6 linked regions of the Homo sapiens genome follow. The protein of the gene in region 3 purifies or fractionates together with the protein of the main gene of each other region. This does not show direct contact. Each region holds a gene or a part of one and is shown on either strand. Other genes may lie near its edges.

What was found.
Region 1: the proteins of MIOS (region 3) and CHM purify together in Homo sapiens (co-immunoprecipitation; one large-scale study listed by IntAct). This does not show direct contact.
Region 2: the proteins of MIOS (region 3) and CCT3 purify together in Homo sapiens (co-immunoprecipitation; one large-scale study listed by IntAct). This does not show direct contact.
Region 4: the proteins of MIOS (region 3) and FKBP15 purify together in Homo sapiens (affinity purification with mass spectrometry, with the first as the bait; one large-scale study listed by BioGRID). This does not show direct contact.
Region 5: the proteins of MIOS (region 3) and DEPDC5 purify together in Homo sapiens (affinity purification with western blotting; 3 studies listed by BioGRID and IntAct, with this or other methods). This does not show direct contact.
Region 6: the proteins of MIOS (region 3) and SUPT5H purify together in Homo sapiens (affinity purification with mass spectrometry, with the first as the bait; one large-scale study listed by BioGRID). This does not show direct contact.

The regions. Positions count from the first base shown.
Region 1 is NC_000023.11:85,957,059-85,960,558, forward strand, and holds part of CHM (rab proteins geranylgeranyltransferase component A 1), read right to left. Parts: intron 1,920-3,500; coding exon 1,803-1,919; intron 918-1,802; coding exon 797-917; intron 1-796. UniProt on the Homo sapiens protein: Substrate-binding subunit of the Rab geranylgeranyltransferase (GGTase) complex.
Region 2 is NC_000001.11:156,321,293-156,324,792, forward strand, and holds part of CCT3 (T-complex protein 1 subunit gamma), read right to left. Parts: intron 1-3,500. UniProt on the Homo sapiens protein: Component of the chaperonin-containing T-complex (TRiC), a molecular chaperone complex that assists the folding of actin, tubulin and other proteins upon ATP hydrolysis.
Region 3 is NC_000007.14:7,573,384-7,576,883, reverse strand, and holds part of MIOS (GATOR2 complex protein MIOS), read right to left. Parts: coding exon 3,115-3,500; intron 2,787-3,114; coding exon 2,688-2,786; intron 1-2,687. UniProt on the Homo sapiens protein: As a component of the GATOR2 complex, functions as an activator of the amino acid-sensing branch of the mTORC1 signaling pathway. The GATOR2 complex indirectly activates mTORC1 through the inhibition of the GATOR1 subcomplex.
Region 4 is NC_000009.12:113,172,778-113,176,277, forward strand, and holds part of FKBP15 (FK506-binding protein 15), read right to left. Parts: intron 1,807-3,500; coding exon 1,651-1,806; intron 829-1,650; coding exon 676-828; intron 1-675. UniProt on the Homo sapiens protein: May be involved in the cytoskeletal organization of neuronal growth cones. Seems to be inactive as a PPIase. Involved in the transport of early endosomes at the level of transition between microfilament-based and microtubule-based movement.
Region 5 is NC_000022.11:31,760,519-31,764,018, reverse strand, and holds part of DEPDC5 (GATOR1 complex protein DEPDC5), read right to left. Parts: intron 3,364-3,500; coding exon 3,317-3,363; intron 1-3,316. UniProt on the Homo sapiens protein: As a component of the GATOR1 complex functions as an inhibitor of the amino acid-sensing branch of the mTORC1 pathway.
Region 6 is NC_000019.10:39,466,082-39,469,581, reverse strand, and holds part of SUPT5H (transcription elongation factor SPT5), read right to left. Parts: intron 3,103-3,500; coding exon 3,013-3,102; intron 2,908-3,012; coding exon 2,837-2,907; intron 1,361-2,836; exon of another isoform or gene 1,289-1,360; intron 827-1,288; coding exon 721-826; intron 504-720; coding exon 410-503; intron 321-409; coding exon 184-320; intron 1-183. UniProt on the Homo sapiens protein: Component of the DRB sensitivity-inducing factor complex (DSIF complex), which regulates mRNA processing and transcription elongation by RNA polymerase II.

The sequences.
Region 1 (3,500 bases), on a different chromosome or scaffold from region 3:
CACAGCCACTGTGGATAACAACATGACAGTACCTAGTAGACTTGAAGCTTTAAGAGCAAGGATTAGACTTTCATTATTTCACAGAGGAAAAAAAATATCGCTGCACTTCTCATTGTAACTTTATAAATAAATTATCAATAGTATATTCCAATTTTGGATAACATTTTCAGACCAATGGACTTAAAGTATATAGCTCTGACACTAAAATGGCATATTCAATTTTTAACAGACAATGAAGTAACTGGCCCCAGATCACATAATGAAATAGGTCAAAGCCAAGAATAGAAACCATGCCTTTTCTGAATCCAGTATTTTTCCCCATATACCATCTAGCCTTTTTTTTTCAAACGAAATAGTTCAAGATTCTATGCAAAAGCAATCCTGGAAAATGATAAAATATATAGTATTTTTACTTATGAGAAAAAATAATGGAATCATGAAAACAGATTATCATCTATGAAGAGCCAGTTGACAGTAGTATTTAAATAATAAGAATAAAAATTAAAATCTAGCATGCCACTTCAGCAATGAAAATATCTGCACTGTAGCCACATGGGGCTATGGGAGCCCTTGAAATACAGCTAATAAGACTGAGAAACTGAATTTATTTTATTTTATTTCACTTTAATTAATTTAAATTTAAATAGCTAAATGTTACTAATGGCTAACCTATTGATAGTGCAGAGTTAGAATGCATTTTAAAACAGTAATAAGTGGCTCACTAAATCAGAGCAAGCATATTAAAATAGTAAGAAATGTCAAATAATTGGAGAGCACTACTTAATGAAAAAAATACCTTTATATTCATCAGGATATTTCTCATATTCCATACAAAATGTAAGAAATTTCATTAGCATTCGCTTTTCTACCATAGTAAGTTGTTTGCTATTAAAGACATCTGCTCTGGAACACGGAACCTGAAAAATATTATGATTTTAAGTTAAGAAACTGCTTCCTAATGATATAACTATTCCAAATTACACTTTTTTCCCCTTTACATATAACAGGATTATCGTTTCCACTCTAGCCAGGCTTTTTCACATCACCGTCCATCAGTACTAATGGCATCTCTGCTAACTTCAGAGCTAATTGTGAGCTTTCTTACTTAATTCTGCCAAGTTACTCCCCATGCCATTAAAAGGCCAACGGCATGTCATCCTAACAGAGAAAAATTTAGCAGTGCTATCTAAAACAAACACTGTGGTTCTCCCTATGTACATGTTAGTACATTTTTATGCCTTTTCTCCAATTAATCTGCCTTTGTGAGTTGATTTTTCAGTGAAACTTCAGAGGCTTAAGAGGGAGTGTTTCCCTTGGCCCCTACAGTTTTGGTGCTGTGAGCAGGATAGCAAAGCTCTGCTCTTCTGGAAGCTGCAGTGAAGAACCCAGGATCTGATCAGCTGTCATAAGGGTAAGAATTTTTTCCCAACCAGGCTCCGGGCCTCCTCCTCTGTGTGGAATCTGATCAAGTGGACAGCAAAAATCACCGTTTCTTTCTTTTCCCTCTCCAAAATCTTGATTAATGGGAGAAAAGGATTTGTGTGACTAGTCTTGGGTATAGTAACTCTGGTGTGCTTTTTGGTTTTTTGTGTGCTGCTTGGTACCAACACCAAGCTGCAGAGTAAGCCATGAGAAAATTAGCACTAGAAATTTTAATTAAGCATTTACATTTGTAAATCACCACGGAGGACTGGAATTTACTGCTTTATGAGGAAAATAACAATCTTATTTGCTTATCTTTCCAAAACAAACCATAATAACTTAAGCTGATGCCCAGTTACAATTCTTGATCAGCACAGTACCTGTTCCACTCGTCCTTCTCGAAATGCAAGAATCCTGGTAATATTTTTAAACTCTGCATATCGACTAACATTAGATTTGATTAGAAGATCAATTAGTAATCCTCGAGAATACAGCAGCTGTACAAAGAAAATATTTTACAAGATAAAAGTTGAAATAGTAGAAAAATTGGAAAACAATAAAGATACATAATTTTGCTATATTTTTTATTATTTGTAGAAACAATCATACCTATAAATATTATAATACATAACACAATCTATTACAGGCTCAGAATTGATTAGCTGAAATTCAAAATTCAAAAAACTTTGCAATCCATAAGTTTTTACAAAACATGTTTAGCAGCAAAACCTGATCCATACTGATAAGGCACTCTGGCTTTGTTTGTCCAAATTAACATAAATATTCATATATTTCACTGCAGAAATAATGTGTTTAGTTAGAGTTCCTCCTCAGACCCTGCTAATAATTTAACCTAACATATAACATATCAGTATATGTACTTCATTACTTTCTAAAATATATTTTTTTAATCTTAATGATAGAATACACCAGGCCCTGAGGGTTTTGGATAAGAATCTATAGTCTTACACAAAGCCAGGTAGTTATAAGAAGAAATCAGTCCAGTGAACCTCCCTACCCCATCAAAAAAAGAAAAAAATATTTGTGATGCATTTACACTGAAAAAGTCAAATTATAAGGTACTTCTGTAATTCTAGAAGTCTGGGTTTATATGAGATATGTCTTTCTCAAAAAGTGAAGATGATGATTATTGCTGGCATGTATGGGAGAAATTGATTTAATCTTTCAACATCTCATAAGTAATATCAGAGAGATAAAATCAATAATGTAAACAGTATTATCTAGCATGTTAACCGTATGGTTAAATGCAACAGATTTGACTATTTCCTATATTAAGATACTCTTAATGCCTATAACTCAATAAATATTAAAAATGAATGTTACATCTATAATAAATAAATGGGAAAATTAGCTTTACTATACAAAGAAAAAGGAATCTCAAAAATCAATCTAAACCATTAGTCTGAGCAACTAATAAGTCAGTAAAGACTATCAGTAAATCAATACCATTCAAGTAAAATTTTATAAACTAATAGTTCAGCATTCTGCAAAACAAAATTGACATCACTTTTTTGAAGCTAATCTGATCATCCTGATTAAATATGGCACGTTACTTCATTACCCTCTTCCTAACACACTACATTACTGAAAGAGACCATGTTTTAAAGAATATATTGCCAATTCTTAACTCTATAATAATGATAAAAAATAGTTACTTCAAAAATCACTTGTTTAAAAAGATACACATTTGAGACTCAAGGATCCCTGCATAGCCATAATAATGTCACAAACATTAAGATATAAAATATGAAACTGCATTTTTATTTAATAAGATCCAATAAACCTTAAGGTTTAATGCCAGCTTGAAAAATAATGCATTTAAGATATCACAAGAACAAAAACAAATTTCAATTAAAATTATACTAGATTTTTGTTTCTGAAGCTCACAAATAATAAATGTGTACATATCAGAATCTAAGCCTCTTTTTCTTTTTTTTTTATTGAGACAGAGTCTCTCTGCTGCTCAGGCTGGAGTGCAGTGGCTCAATCTCAGCTCACTGCAACCTCTGTCTCCTAGGTTCAAGCGATTCTCCTGCCTCAGCCTCCCGAGTAGCTGG
Region 2 (3,500 bases), on a different chromosome or scaffold from region 3:
TTCCTTATCTTCTGCTTCAACCAAGTAAACTTTTCAACTTTTACAACTCAGGTCAAGACACATTTTTTTTTATGAAACTTTATCCCATAACTAGCCAACTTTAAGAGTTTTATCAAATCATTCATTTGAACAGCAAATTTTATTTTTAGCTCATGGTGTGTCACAGTGGTCAAAGATGACCACCAACTGGTCATCTTTGTGTTTTTATGTTACTGTAAACACATTTTATGTATTTACCATTTTTATATTACTTTCACTCCTCACAAGATATTTTCACATAATGCTAAAATCTCTTTTTTGGCTGTGCACGGTGGCTCACGCCTGTAATCCCAGCACTTTGGGAGGCCAAGGCGGGCAGATCACTTGAGGTCAGGAGTTCGAGACCAGCCTGGCCAATATGGTGAAACCCCATCTCTATTAAAAATACAAAAATTAGCCAGGAGTGGTGGCATGTGCCTGTAGTCCCAGTTACTCCAGAGGCAGAGGTTGCAGTGACCTGAGATCATGTCACTGCACGACAGCCTGGGTGACAGAGTGAGATTCCGTCTCAAAAAAACCCCAAAATAAACAAAATCCCTCTTTTAACAGTGAAAGGCACATAATATACCAATTATTAAATGGTTGAATTATGGACTTTTGGGAAGAAGCAATGACTCCAAAAATGGTATCTAAGATAAAGGGGGCTGGGTGCCATGCTTCACGCCTGTAAACCCAACACTTTGGAAGACTGAGGATAGCTGGAAGCCCAGAGTTAAAAACCAACCTGGGCAACATAGCAAAACCTCATCTCTATGAAAAATTTAGCAGGGCGTGGTGGACATACCTATAGTCCTAGCTACTTGGGAAGCTGGGGCAGGATTGCTTGAGCCCAGGAGCTGGAAGCTGCAGTAAGCTGTGACTGCACCACCGCACTCCAGCTTAGGCAACAGAGTGAGACCATATCTCTAAAAAATAATTTTTTTGGGAGGCCGAGGTGGTAGGATCACCTGAGGTCAGGAGTTTGAGACCAGCTTCACCAATATGGTGAAACCCCATCTCTACTAAAAATACCAAAATTAGCTAGGTGTGGTGGTATGCGCCTGTAGTCCCAGCTACTTGGGAGGCTGAGACAGAATTGCTTGAACCGAAGAGGCGGAGGTTGCAGTGAGCCGAGATCATGCCACTGCACACTCCAGCCTGGAAAACAGAGCGAGACCCCCCGCCACCCCAAAAAAATTTTTTTAATAAGATTAAAGTGTTCTAGGTAGGCAGTTATTACTTGATTAAAAAAAAAAAATATTTCAGGCCAGGCACGGTGGCTCACGCCTGTAATCCCAGCACCTTGGGAGGCCGAGGCAGGCGGATCACCTGAGGTCGGGAGTTTGAGACCAGCCTGACCAATGTGGAGAAAAACTCCGTCTCTACTAAAAATACAAAATTAGCCAGGCGTAGTGGCACATGCCTATAATCCCAGCTACTCGGGAGGCTGAGGCAGGAAAACTGCTTGAAGCCAGGGAGCAGAGGTTGTAGTGAGCTGAGATCCAGCTATTGCATTCCAGCCTGAGCAACAAGAGTGAAACTCCGTCTCAAAAAAAAGGCTTTCTAAGCGTGAAGCTCCACACAATAAAACCTTTGGGTACCTCTACATTCTCACAGAGCTTACTGCATAAAAATAATTAGATCAAACACCTCATTCTTAAGTGTGCCAGACAAAGATATTAATGTACAACTTGTTTAAGAGCAGGCAGTATATGGCCAGGCGCGGTGGCTCACGCCTGTAATCCCAGCACTTCGGGAGGTCAAGGTGGGTGGATCACCTGAGGTTGAAAGTTTGAGACCAGCCTGACCAACATGGAGAAACCCTGTCTCTACTAAAAATACAAAATTAGCCGGATGTGGATGCACATGCCTGTAATCCCAGCTACTCGAGAGTCTGAGGCAGGATAATCACTTGAACCTGGGAGGTGGAGGTTGCAGTGAGCCGAGATCGCGCCATTCATTGCACTCCAGACTGGGCAACAAGTACAAAAACTCCGTCTCAAGAAAAAAAAAAAAGAGCAGGCAGTATAATATAAACCTCACCAAATTACTAAACACTTATGCATCTAGTGACTCAACCATATGAGTAGAATATTTAAATAAAGAAAAAAAAAACTATTTCCAGTTGGGCGTGGAAAAAATATACATTTTTATTTTTATTTATTTATTTTTGAGATGGAGTCTCGCTCTGTCGCCCAGCCTGGAGTGCAGTGGTGCAATCTCTGCTCACTGCAAGCTCTGCCTCCCGGGTTCATGCCATTCTCCTGCCTCAGCCTCCCAAGTAGCTGGGACTATAGGCACCTGCCACCACGCCCGGCTTATTTTTTTGTATTTTTAGTAGAGATGGGGTTTCACCATGTTAGCCAGGATGGTCTCAATCTCCTGACCTCGTGATCCGCCCGCCTCCGCCTCCCAAAGTGCTGGGATTACAGACGTGAGCCACCGCACCCAGCCCTATTTTTATTTTTTTTGAGATGGAGTTTTGTTGTTCGCCCAGGCTGGAGTGCAATGGTGCGATCCTGGCTCACCACAAACTCCGCCTCCCGGGTTCAAGTGATTCTCCTGCTTCAGCCCCCCGAGTAGCTGGGATTACAGGCGCATGCAACCACACCTGGCTAATTTTTGCATTTTTAGTAGAAATGAGGTTTCACCATCTTGGCCAGGCTGGTCTTGAACTCCTGACCTCAGGTGATCCACCCGCCTTGGCCTCCCAAAGTGCTAGGATTACAGGTGTGAGCCACCATGCCCAGCCCAAGTCTTACTTTTTATTTTTTTGAGACAGAGTCTCACTCTGTCACCCAGGCTGGAGTGCAGTGGCACAATCTCGGCTCACTGAAACCTTCGCCTCCCGGGTCCAAGCGATTCTCCTGCCTCAGCCTCCTGAATAGCTGGGATTACAGGCGCCTGCCACCATGCCCAGCTAATTTTCTGTACTTTTAGTAGAGACGAGGTTTCACCATGTTGGCCAGGCTGGTCTCTAACTCCTGACCTCGTGATCCACCCACCTGGGCCAAAGTGATGGGATTACAGGCGTGAGCCACCGAGCCCTGCCAGGTTTTACTTTTTAAACAAAAATTTTTATTCAAGACACTGCTCTACATGACTCTACGTGATGTTAAACCTTAACTAAAATTCCCTGAAGCTAGAGGTAATATATGCTTTTCTTTTTTTTCTTCTGAGATGGGAGTTTCGCTCTTGTTGCTCAGGTTGGAGTGCAGTGGAGAGATCTTGGCTCACTGCAATCTCCGCCCCCTGGTTTCAAGCAATTTTTCTGCCTCATCCTCCTGAGTAGCTGGCATTACAGGTGTGCGCCACCATACCCAGCTGATTTTTTTTGAGACGGAGTCTTGCTCTGTCACCAGGCTGGAGCACAGTGGGGCCATCTCAGCTCACTGCAACCTCTGACTCCCTGGTTCAGGCAATTCTCCTGCCTCAGCCTCCCAAGTAGCTGGGACGACACGCATGCGCCACCATGCCCAACT
Region 3 (3,500 bases):
TCTTCTCCACCCCTTTATCTAATTAATCATTAAATTTTCTCCTATTCTCTAATGTATCCACATTTCTCTAGCTCCTCTGCTACTAACCTTGGTAAGGATAGCATCACGTCTTGCCTCCTTGCAGCAGGCTTCTATCTGATATCCCTACTATCAATCTTGATCCTTTTAAAACACAAATCTGTCACAAATCCATCTGTTTCCCCGTCTTACAAGATGAATCTCCCTAAATTCTTAACATGATTTCTAAGTCTTTCTTGAGTTAGCCCACTGCTTACCTTTCTAGCCTCCATTCTTTCCTCACTTCCTCTCTCATGCTCTGTTTCAGCCATAATAATGTGCTATGCTCTCTACCCTCTGGGTCCACTGCACATGCTGCTCCCTGTCTGGACCTTGTCTTTAACTGTACCTCCTCTGAGAAACCTCTAATCCCTGCAACCAGATTAGGAGTCCTTCCTGTAATTAACTGTCTGTTCTTCCCTATGTTATAACTGCCAGCTTACTTGTCTATATTCTAAACTAGAATATAAACTCCTCAAGAGCAGGGATGACATTGATCCTGCTCAATCTCCATGAGGGAAGAGATTTATGTATCTTCTTGAGAGTTATGTCTCTAGTTCCTAGGATAACTCCTGGCATATAGCATGCATGTAGGTAATAAATACTTGCTGAATGAATGAGCTTACTTCATATTGTAGTTGTAAAAATTAAAGTAACATGGGAAAAGCAACTAATTCATAGCAAGCACTTATATATATACTATTTGTTACCAAAATTAAAATTTAGCTGTATGCTCTAATAAACTTGTGTATTAGGTTACTGTGGACAAGATGGCTCAATGTGTTGACTTACCATGTGTTGATTATTAGAGATACAATTAGAGGAAAAGGTATGGCCAAATAAAACAGAAGACTGAAATCTAAGAGTGGCATATTTGACAGTATTTCTCTACTTTTCACCTTTGGGTAGTAGAAACAAAAATATCTATACCAAACAAAAAAAAAAAAGCTGAAAACCTAGCAATGAGAGAATGATGAATGAGGAAATCTTTCCAACAGTAGTGTTTCTTTAGTCTGGGTAGAGACTATTTTGACACAGGGGTGGGATACTCAGTTTGTCTCTAGTGCACCAGAAACATAAACATATTACATTTTCCCCTTTTGCTTTTCCTCAGATGCTGGCTTTTCCTTAAAATATATCAAAATACAAAAAACACAATAACCAACCTCTAAATAATTGAGTGCAGTGTGGCCTGATCTACTATATAGCTAAAACACTATAAATTCTATAAACTTGGTGTTTAATTCTTTGTAGCAATAGGCAATGGCTCTAAAATCTTGAACCATGGTACCAGGTTCATTTGTGGGAGTAAAACAGTATGTGTGCCCTTTTACCTATGTTAATAAAAACAGCAGCTTCTAACTAAACTTATTCATTTTACTATTTATAATAAAGGTTACTTTTTTTGGTGGAGGGCTAATACAAAAACAATAAAATCAAACTGATCAGTAAGTAGTCTACTGCATCTTTCAGTAAAGTGAACCAAAGTAATTTGAAAGACGTTAAAAAAACACTATAATGTAACAGTTTAATTAAAACACTTAACCTACTCTAAAATATTTTATTATTTTGTATTTTGTTTGTATGGTACTGATACAAGCTCCGTAAAAAATCAAATTGGATTTACTACTTCTATTACTGCTCTTTGACTAAATAATGTTAACTACTTTTCTAACAGCTTGACTTGGGCCCAAATTTGACTTACCAAAAGTTAGAGAACGAATCCTAGATCACAGAGATACAGGGTGAGCATCCCAAATCTGAAAACTGAAGTCCAAAAGGCTTCAAAATCTGAAACTTTCTAAGTGCTGAGATGATATTCAAAGGAAATGCTCATCGGAGCATTTTGGATTTCAGAATAGGGATGGTCAATCTCTAAGTATATAACGCAAATATTTCAAAATCTGAAAGTATCTGAAACATTTTTGGTCCCAAGCCATTTTGGATAAGGTATACTCAACCTGCAATTCTAATATAACCCATTATTCAATTCCAGTAAAAGAATAGGAACAACTGTTTAAAGCAGTCAGAAAAAAAAAAAAGTTTGGTTTTTGTCACTTTTATTCTTTAATAGTTTACCATACCAATTTTCAATCCTACATTAACTCACACGTTAATTAATTCATTCACTAATTAACCAAGGACTATATCAGGTATAATTCCTCCACGTTAGGCCATATTTCATATCATACTCCTTGCTGTTAGATGGCTCAATGAAAGTATTTGAGGAGCAAAATAAAAAGGGATCTCCTTCAATTAGAGATCTTTTTAGTTTTTAAGAAGCAAAATGTTGCGATAAAACCTGAACTAACAATCAGTAATCTGTAAATTGTCTAGTGTAAAACCTCTCAAAGTGGGTTTTCAAAAAAATAACATTGAATAAACGTGTGGATAGATTTAAGAAGATCAACATCACTTCAGAGAATTAAGACTCCCTGCAAAAAGGGTTTTGGATATAAATACAAGTATGCATTTAACTCAACAATACAATGAAATATCCAATCAGAAAACAAAAAAAATTATGTACATGATCCTGAAATAACTAGATAATTTCTGCCAAATGACAGGGGGCAAAATAAAAGTACAAAAGTTATAAACATATTGGAGAAAATGAAATAGAATTTTCTTACCCAACGATGACTTTACAATTGATTTAATTCCTGCATAAACCAATGATCCTTTGTTGCCTGGAGATTTCTGATCCATATCTTCTGTGTATTGCTTCATAAGTATTTAAATGCATAGGAAATACTAGTGATGCATGACAATATATTTCAAAGCTAAATTTATTTTGATTTGGAGCCAATTCATAATAAGTATCAGTGTAAATAAGGTGGTTCGACTCTATTGCAGAGATACACTTTTCTTCCTCCTACACAATCTACAAAGCAGTATTTCAAGTTCGAAAGTTTAGAACAATTTTACTTTATAATGTTAGTATTATGTAACTTGTATTTGTATATAAAACATTGAGCATATTTACAGACTGACCTTTTGGCAAACTTCAAGAACATTTCTACCTGATTCACCTCACAAAATTCACAATGAAAAGGATATAGTGCAGAGTATACCAGAGTGACTTGAGCTGTGGATCTTCATTTCCAGCTAAAATGTGGTTCCTCCACACCTGCTCTGTATCAAGTCCATACCTTGATAAAGCCCGAAGACGCATCTTCGTTGCTATATCTTTTTCTAAAGAATTATCATTTTCTTCTTCCGTACATTCATATAAATGACGACCACAAGCCCACATTAAAGATGTAATTGGGCTCCAGGCAAGAGATATCCTTTCAAAAACAGTGAAGTCTGACATTGTTCGGTTGGGAGTTACAACTATCATTCGATTTTGACTTGTTGGATGCCACGCAAAGGAAGCAATGTAATTGTCACAAGGTTGCACACTTCTTTCAATTATTGTGGGTTCAGTTTCATCCCCAATGGGA
Region 4 (3,500 bases), on a different chromosome or scaffold from region 3:
TTGCCTCCAAGATCTCTGAGCCAAAAGTTTTCAACTGGACACTTTAAGGAAAGAAACTGACCTCGAATATGGACTTTCACACCATGACCCTAAGCCATGTCCCATCTCTCTTTTTCAGGCCTGATGATCCCACCACACCCCAGCCTCCATCCTATCTCAGTGCCTTTGCCCAGGATGTTCTGCCTCCTTTGCTGCCTTACCAAAGCTATTTGTCCTTCTTGGCTCTGCTCAAATGTCACCACCTTTGGGAAACCTTCCCAGCTCTCCTGGGTACTTCCTCTTCTGGGCCCCATAGCACTTAACACCTATCTTTGTTTCTTTGTCTCCCTTTCTTGACTGTGAGATACATGAGGGAAGGGTTCCTTGTATGCACTTCCTTTAACACACTGGATGGAATACAACTGACTCTCAATAAATATTTGCTTAATAAATGAAGGATCCAATAATAATGGGAAACATGTTCCGGAACACTAGTGCTGTTTTCTCTTTTTCCAGGTCACTGACCTATCACCCCACATAAGTATGTGAAAGATAACTGACAAGCTAAACAAGTGTGGTTTTGTCTTCTAGATATTAATAACTTTCAGGCTTAGAAGGATCGACAGGACTCAAACAGCCTGCTTGCCTCAAATTAACTGGGCTGCCTAAACTGTCTGACTCAAGAAAAATATGTACCTTTTCCTGAAGTTGTACCAGCTTCTGCTGGTAGGCATCTCTCTGTGCGCACACCTCCTGGTACTGCTGCAGGTGCTCATCCTTGGCGGAGGCCAACAAATGTTCACATTTTGCTTCCCACTGGGTCTGTAGCTCAGCCTGTACTAAAGACAGCTGCCAAGAGAAAGTAATGACCATATCATCCTTGGGGGTGGGGGAGTGAGATTCCATTGCACCTAGGGAAACCCATCTTTCAAAAAGCAAAAGAATAAGCTAACAGCCCAGATTTAACTGGGAAACTGTTTAAAAGACTCATTACTTTTAAAATAAATGCACTTCTTAAGATGTCATTGGTTGTCAGGACTCCAAAAGGTACTCCAAGCAGACAAAAGTGTGCCTATCTAGATAGGTCCCTGGAGGGCAGGGCCATGTGATCACTGCTTTTCAGGGTCTGAACCCTAAACTTTATAGGTTCAGAAACTTTTTTTCACCAAAATTCCCAGAGGTGGTCAAATTGAGGGCACCAATGCACTCTAATTAAACAAATGTATGCATATAAATTTTAAGCTTATAATGAGAAAGGTTGCTGTTGCACAGACTAGAGATCCAGCTGTGTCCTGCCACTATCCCTGGTTCCCTTCCTGATGACCTAAATCAATCCCTTCTTTTCAAGGATGATAATGTGCCTGAAGGATGGTGTCCAATGGTTGATGGTTTTGGCCTTACCATGTTTGGAATTTTTTTTGTAAGGAAACTATTTTTCATTTTTACTTATGTAATTAAATATTAACTAAGCTTTAAAAAAAGAAAGAAGATTCTCCATTTGATTCCTGGCTCTCCTGCACATATCTGGATTACTTTTTCTACCTTTCTCCAAAGTGAGAGTATCAGCTATGAGAAATGTCATCCTAAAGGGTAAGGAAGAAACCAGAAGCTTTTCTCTCTGAGTCCTTCACACCTTCCCTCTATTTTCAAAGTGCTTCAGTTTCCCATTACCTGCTCTGCAGCTGCTTGGTCTGTGGACACTCGAGTCTTTTTCAAGAGCTGTCGAAGTTTGTCCAATTCCTCCTGGTATGACTTGCGAATTTCATCTATCTCCTCCTCGGCCTGAGAACGCTCTTGAGCTGACTTCTTTTTCCTTTCTGAGAGGTTCTTAGGAACAAGAGAACCATCATCAGCTCTAGCTTGTTAACAGAGAATAAAGAGGGATGATGGCGGTGGCAGTTAATTACCTTGTGGAATCCTTACTCCATTTCTGAAAACTCCATTTTTTAGTTGAATTTTCCCCTAAATATTTAACATTCTTGGCTACTGGGTGAGGAAAATGGTGACAGGAGAAGGAAAACAAGAAGAGCTGTATCTACCCCTCTATTAAGAGCTAGGGAAATTGGGAGGCCGAGGCGGGCGGATCACGAGGTCAGGAGATCGAGACCATCCCGGCTAAAACGGTGAAACCCCGTCTCTACTAAAAAATACAAAAAATTAGCCGGGCGTAGTGGCGGGCGCCTGTAGTCCCAGCTACTTGGGAGGCTGAGGCAGGAGAATGGCATGAACCCGGGAGGCGGAGCTTGCAGTGAGCCGAGATCCCGCCACTGCACTCCATCCTGGGCGACAGAGCGAGACTCCGCCTCAGAAAAAAAAAAAAAAAAAAAAAAAAAAAAAAAAAAAAAGAGCTAGGGAACATCCTAACTTTAATAAAGGTACAGGAAATCAGACATTCTCATACCCTGATAGTAAGAAAACGAATGGATATACTCTCTTTGGATAGTAATCCTGTGAAAAGCCTTTAAAAACATACGTATCCAGAAATTCCACAAATTGTAATTAAGGATTCAATAAGTCATAGTCATAAAGAGTGTGTTACAAGGATGGTCACTGTAGTAGTATCTATAGTAATGACAAACTGAAAACAGCCAAGAGGTTAGAAGGAATTGGTTAAAAATAAATAAATAAAATGGAAAAAATCCTGGAAAAAAATGCAATTGCAGACCAAGATTTACCCTCTTAAAAGGCACTGGGCCAAAACAGCTTTACCTAATGAGATTTACTGAAGCCTCAGGAGCAGTTTATTATTTTCATATTTAAACGATTCCAGAACAGACAAAAAGATAGAAATGTTCTCACTTTGTTCACTTAGTATTTCCTGATATTAAAATTTTAACCAACAAAAGATACTATAAATAAAGTTAAAAGACAGCAAGCTAGAAAAATATTTACAACATCTATGACTGACAAAGGATTGATACCCTTAAAAGGGTTTACAAATCAAACTAATAATAGGAAAAAGGATAAAGGACACTAAAGAGAGAATGTACATAAGAAATACAAATAGGTATTAAATATATGAAAGCTTTACTACTAATAAAAATACACATTAAAACAAGATAACATATTTCACCTGTCAGACTAATGAAGATTAGAAAAAGTGATATATGTAGAGTGGGGAAGAATGTGACAAATGGGCTCACTCACATACTGCTGAAAGTGTAAGCACTATTCTTTGAGGATAACCTGGTAATATTTATAAAAATTCAAATATGTAGCCTTCCCTTTGATCCCATGATTCTTACTCATGCAATCCATCACGTAGGAATGCTCAAACAAATTTGCAAAAACAGTTATATAATATGAGAATGTCCATAGAAGCAGTGCTTAAAATAATGAAAAAATAAAAACATAAATATCCATCGATAGGCAAATCATTAAACAAATTATGGTACAGCCTCATAGTAGGCTACTATGCAGCAGTTAACTACGAGTGAGAAAGATCTCCTTCTTATGTAGTACAAGTCCATGACATTTTCCTAAAAAACATTAAACGTGATACCACTACTGTAAAAAAAGTT
Region 5 (3,500 bases), on a different chromosome or scaffold from region 3:
GGTGGAAGTTGCAGTGAGCCAAAATCACACCACTGCACTCCAGCCTGGGCGACAGAGGGATACTCCATCTCAAAATAACATAACATAACATAACAAACATAACATAACATAACATAAAAAACATAACACCACACAACATAACAATAAAAATGAAAACTTTAAATTTTTTTTTTACTGCTCCTTGCAGAGCAGGGATAACCCATAGGCAGCGTAACCAGAGTAGCCAGGTTTTATAGAATGTTTTCTCCTCAAATTGAAATATTGAATTGTTAAATATGAGTGGATAGCCAGGCATGGTGACTCATGCCTGTAATCCTAGCACTTTAGGAGGCCAAGGCATGAGGACTGCTTGGGCCCAGGAGTTCAAGACCAGCCTGAGCAAAAATTAAAAAAAAAAAAATTAGCCAGGCATGATCCTGTGGGCTGGGCGTCTGGGGTCTTAGCTACTCGGGAGGCGGAGGTGGGAGATGGAGAATCATTTGCACCCAGGGAGGTTGAGGCTGCAGTGAGCCGTGACTGCACCACTGCACTCCAGTCTGGACAACAGAGAGAGGCCCTGTCTGAAAGGGAAAAAGAAAAAAAAAAAAGGCAGGGGCAATGGTGCAGTGGCTCACGCCTGTAATCCCAGGACTTTGGGAGGTTGAGGCAGGCAGATCACCTGGGGTGAGGAATTTGAGACCAGCCTGGCCAACATGGTGAAACCCCATCTCTACTAAATATATAAAAATTAGGCCGGGCATGGTGGCTCATGTCTGTAATCCCAGCACTTTGGGAGGCCGAGGAGGGCGGATCACGAGGTCAGCAGTTCGAGACTAGCCTGGACAACATAGTGAAACCCTGTCTCCACTAAAAATACAAAAATTAGCCAGGTGTGGTGGCGTGCACCTGTAATCCCAGCTACTGAGGAGGCTGAGGCAGGAGAATCCCTTGAATCCAGGAGGCGGAGGTTGCAGTGAGCTGAGACCATGTCATTGCGTTCCAGCCTGGGTGACAGAGTGAGACTCCATCTCAAAAAAATAAAAATATAAATATAAAAATTAGCCAGGCATGGTGGTGCACGCCTGTAGTCCTAACTACCTGGGAGGCTGAGGCAGGAGAATCACTTGAACCCAGGAGGCGCAGGTTGCAGTCAGCCAAGATTGTGAGACTGCACTCCAGACTCCAGCCTGGGCAACAGAGTGAGACGCCATCTCTTTAAAAAAAAAGAAAGAGTGGGTGACATCAAAGCCCTTTATTTTATTTATTTATTTATTTAGAGACAGAGTTTTGTTCTTGTTGCCCAGGCTGGAGTGCAATGGCGTGATCTCAGCTCACCACAACTTCTGCCTCCCAGATTCAAGCAATTCTCCTGCCTCAGCTTCCCGAGTAGCTGAGATTACAGGCATGCGCCACAATGCCTGGCTAATTTTATATTTTTAGTAGAGACGGGGTTTTACCATGTTGGTCAGGCTGGTCTCAAACTCCTGACCTCAGGTGATCCACCTACTTCAGCCTCCCAAAGTGTTGGGATTACAGGCGTCAGCCACTGCACCCAGCCATCAAAGCCCTTTAGAGCAACCCAGAATTTTGTTTTTTTCTCTTAAGAACTATTTAAAAGAGTATCTTATTTACTTTCAATTAACATTTTGGTTCCTTGAACAGCATGGCATAGCCATTAGAGGGAAAAAGAAAGGATTTGAATCCAGAATAAGTAAGCAGGAATCACTGCTTCTGGCTACGCCTAGACTGTATAGTCCGGCAGATAATAAACTTCCTCACTCACTCAAGAGTTGTTGGGAAGATAATGCTAGATTACACAAAGCTCCCAGGATAGTACCTTGCACAATGTGGTGGGCGATCATCAATATATATTTCTTCCTCCCCAATCCCTACTCACCCAGAGTAGGCATTTAACAAATAGTTTGTGAAAAAATGGGACAGATGTGGTGGATCACACCTGCAATCTTAGCACTTTGGGAGGTCAAGGTGTCAGGAACTCCACTTGAGGCCAGGAGTTCAAGACCAACCTGGGCAACAGGCAGGTTGTGTATTTTTTTTTTTTTTTTTTTTTTGAGCCGGAGTCTCGCTCTGTCGCCCAGGCTGGAGTGCAGTGGCGTGACCTCGGCTCACTGCAACCTCCGCCTCCCGGGTTCAAGTAATTCTCCTACCTCGGCCTCCAGGGTAGCTAGGATTATAGGTGCATGCCACCACACCCGGCTAATATTTTGTATTTTAGTAGAGACAGGGTTTCACCGTTTTGCCCAGGCTGGTCGCAAACTCCTGAGCTCAGGCAATCCGCCTGCCTCAGCCGCCCAAACTCCCAGGATTACAGGCATAAGCCACCGTGCCTGGCCTATTTTTTTTTTTTTTTTTTTTTGAGATAGGGTCTTGCTCTGTTGACCAGGCTAGACTGCGGTGGCACCGTTATAGCTCATTGAAACCTCAAACTCTTGGGACCCAATGATCCTTCCACCTCAGCCTCCAGAGTAGCTAGGACTATAAGCGTCACTTTACAATTTTTTTTTTAGTGGCAACATAGTTTGATAAGAAGAGAACTACAGTCATAAAAAAATGGAATCATGTCCACTGCAGCAACATGGATGGAGTTGGAGGCCACCATTATCCTAAGTGAACTAACTCACAAACAGAAAACCAAATACTGCATGTTCTTACCTATAAGTGGGATGGAAATAATAGACACTTGGGACTCCAAAAACAAGGACAGGGAAGAGAATGAAGGTTGAAAAATACAATGTTCAGGCTGGGTGTGGTGGCTCACGCCTGTAATCCCAGCACTTTGGGGGGCCAAGGCAGGAGGATCATGAAGTCAGGAGATTGAGACCATCCTGGCTAACACGGTGAAACCTCGTGTCTACTAAAAATACAAAAAATTAGCCAGGCGTGGTGGCAGGTGCCTGTAGTCCCAGCTACTTGGGAGGCTGAGGGAGGAGAATGGTGTGAACCCAGGAGGCGGAGCTTGCAGTGAGCCGAGATCGCGCCACTGCACTCCAACCTGGGTGACAGAACAAGACACTGTCTCAGAAAAAAAAAAAAAAACAATGTTAAGACACAGATACAACATTCTTTATCTGTATCTGTTCTGTCAGATACAAGGTTCACTGTGTAATGGATACAATAGAAGCCCAATCCCCACCAGTACACAATATACCCATGTAACAAACATTCCCATGTACTGCCTGAATTGAAAGTTAAATTAAAATTTGTTTAAAAAAGAAGAGAATTACTTGCCCTCATCCCTTGAAATTATGAAGAGAGATTTCTTACAGTTTCTGAGGCAGTAAATAAAAAATTCTAAGAAGAGTGATATAATTCTTACCCTTCTGTAAATCTTCCTTAAGAGACTTGACCTGCAAAAGCAGAGGGCTGAAAAAGAAAGCAACAAGAGAGTTGGGATACCGTGAACAGTAACTCCCTAGCAACCTTCATCCCCGACAAAAGGCAAATAGGTCACTCTGGCCATTCTGTGACTTACAGCACAACAACGGGAGAAAGCTCCCTCA
Region 6 (3,500 bases), on a different chromosome or scaffold from region 3:
TGCTGCCCACCGACCCTGAGCTGCACTCAGACAGAGCCTCTCAGGCACCTGAGAATGCTAGAAGGGCCTCAACTTACCCTCCTGGAAACCAGGTGTCACCAGGCACACCACCGCCTCGACAGCCACATACAGTCAGATGTGCCTGAACACTCCAACCCCTGCCCGAGAACACCGGGCACCCACCTTGAGGTCCTCATGCTTGGGCATGATGGTGATCTTGTTGCCATCCACGCTGAGGATCTTGCCCTGCAGGTTGATGAGCTCACCCTCACAGACCTCCACGTTGTCCCCAGGTTGGAAGTTGTGCTCCCGCTCCTTCCCTGCAGGGGCAGTCGTAGGGCTGACTCGGGGGTTGCCACCATGGGCCGCCCCTGCTCCTTGGCCCAGGTTATAGAGGGGGATCAAATACCTGTGCTCTCAGTCACCACCTCCAGGTCAATGCCCTCTGGCTGGTCCTCAAACTTTTCCAGCTCAGAGAGTGTTGGCTTCACACCCTCCGTGATCTAAGCCCCCAGCGGTGAGGGGAAGAGAAGGAAATGGACCGAGGTCAGTGCAACAGCCCAGCTGAGTGGGCTGAGTGGGTCCTAGGGGAATAATTCTCCTAGGGAACACTCCTAACTTGAGGAGTGGGACAGAACCAGATAACCCACAGCCCAGGGCATCACCTGCAGGAGAACACTCACACCACCCCCATTACCAACACCCCTCTGGGACCCTCACCACAGCAGACATGGCGAAGCTCTTGAACAGAAAGCCCTTCCGGCTGTAACGGTTCCCCTCAAAGATGAGGAAGTCACCATCAGAGGCAACATCACCCCCCAGGGACCTGGAATTTGATGGGGGAGAGAAGATTAGAAGGGAGAGTCAAGAAGAAAATCTTGCTGTACCTCAGTCTTCTCAGCTGGCAACAGAAGGAGAGGACCACAGGCAGACTGACCCATCCCATCCCAGCACACACCCTCTTGGCAGCAGTGACTTCTCACAAACCCCAAAGGCCCGCCTCCCACCTCCCTGCACTCCTCCACCCATTCCCTGATTTATCTTTGAGCACCGATCACCATCTGACAATCTAGTGTTTGACCTGTCCCCCTAACTAGCATGTCAGCTCCAGAAGGTCAGGGATGTAACATTCACTAAATTTCACCAAGAATAGTGCCCAGTACACAGAAAGTATGCAGTAAACATTAGCTGAACAAAATAACAGTTTCAGACAATGATACCAGTGAATATTCGCAGAGCGCTCAGCCTGGCCTGCACACTCATGACCTCACAGGCTCTTCCCCAAATCTGTGGCATCAGTAACTGCTCATCATTTCCAGGTGAGGGAATGCAGGCTCAGGAAGGTCACATCACATGCCCAAGGGTGCCAAGCCACAGTCTTGACAGGATTCAAAAGCAGGCAGGTGGGACTCCCAAGCCTGCAGCTCCCGGCCCCAAATGTGGAGTGGCGGCCGCTTAGTGCCTGTTCCGAGTCTCCGGGGTGGGGAAGGAGCCTCCTTCATGGAGGAGCAGGTCAAGTTCCTCCTGCGCTCATGCAATCGCCTTCTCCCATGGTGAATCTGGGAGAGGGGCCAGCATGCTCTGCTGGGCATGCTGGGGTACTTGGTCAGCTGGCTTGCTGGGGGGTAAGGGAGCACTAGGGTTTGTTCTTTGCAAAGAGAGGTTCAGGTGAGTCGAAACCAGTGGTATAAATGGGTCCGAACTCAGGCAGGTGAAGTATTAGCAAGGCCCTTGGGTGCAGACTCAAAGGTGCATTCCACAGCTCTTCCTTTATCTGAAGGAAAACCTGACTGGCTGAATCACACACAATTAGTTCTAGAACAGGACCAGAGGGAAGAGTGTCACTGGCACCTCTCGTTTCTCCATGTCCTCCTCTCCTGCCCTCCCTGCCGGAGCCCCCAGTTGGCCCTGGGATGTTGAAATTCCTGGGCTGCTCCAATTCTCTACCCAGCTAGGGAGTCTGGGGGGCATCCTGAGGGAAAGGCACTCCATACCCCCCCATCTCAAGTGGGCATAAGCAGATCAGGAAAGGAGACTTTCTAAAGCCTGACATAGTCCATGAATCCCATTTCAATATATCACACCATGGATCACACTTACTACGTGCCAAGGGCATTCTGAGTACATATGCATACTAATTTATTTAATTCTCACTATAATCTATAATCTGAGGAAGCAGAGGTTGTTTTCTTTTTTTTTGAGACGGAGTCTCGCTCTGTCACCCAGGCTGGAGTGCAGTGGCACGATCTCGGCTCACTGCAATTTCTGCCTCGTGGGTTTAAGCGATTCTCCTGCCTCAGCCTCCCAAGTAGCTTGGATTACAGGAGCTGACCACAACCCTTGGCTAATTTTTGTATTTTTAGTAGAGACAAGGTTTCACCATGTTGGCCAGGCTGGTCTTGAACTCCTGACCTCAAGTGATCCGCCCGCCTCGGCCTCCCAAAGCGCTGGGATTATAGGTGTGAGCCATCACGCCCAGCCTCATCAATCTTTTTAAATATTTTTTTAACTTTTTTCTTTTTATTATTATTATTATTTTAAAAGATGGGATCTCATTATGTTGCCCAGGCTGGTCTCGAACTCCTTGCCTCAAGCAAGCCTCCTGCCTTAGCCTTCCAAAGTGCTCCCTCCCGCTGCGCCCAGCCTCATCAATCTTTATAGCAGAAGAAACTGAGGCACAGGGATGTGAAGTGACTTGCCTGAGGCTATACTGCCAAGCTAACCAATTCACAGGCTAAACCTGTGGCGGGGCCACCCCTGGGGAGGAACCTGCAAAAGGCACATTCTACACACCGGCCCTGGGGACCCAGCCCAGCCAGTCCCCAAGGACACGCACCTGATCTTCTCAGCATCAAACAGCCTCTGTGGAGGCCGCTTAAACTTCTTCCTTTTGGCAAACCAGTCTTTCTATGGAGGAAAGGGGCATGGGTGGGAAGGGTGAGGGAGGGGGCTTGGCCACCAGTGGGATCGAGCACACTCCCTCCCCCCCAGGCCACAGATTCCCCTGAGTACCAAGCTCATGCGGGCCTTGATGCGATCGTAGTCGATGCGTGGGATCATCTTCAGGGAGATGGTGTTCTGGCTGGGCTCCACGTAGTCCACCTGAGCAGGGCGAGCAGAAGGTCAGCAGGGCCCCACTCTCCTCCCTGACCCCAGACACAAGAAGGGTCAGGAGATGCTAGGAAGGAGAAGGGACGCAGGATGGTGGGGAAGAAACCAGGCTGCTGACCACTCCCAAAAGTCCCACGCTAGCTTGTCTGTCCCCTCAACTCTGGCACTGAGTAGCCACTGCCTGCTTGGTATCTCCACCTGGATGTCTAAAGGTCCCTCAAATCCAGGACGACCGCAGCCAAACCGCTGATTCCCCCAAACCTGCCGCCTCCCACTCCATTCTTCCCTCTGCTCAGGCACACAACCTGGGAGCCACTCTTGACTCCTTTGTTTCTCTTACACCCACACCCGACCCGTTGGCAAATTCCATCAGCTCTGCCTTCAAAATA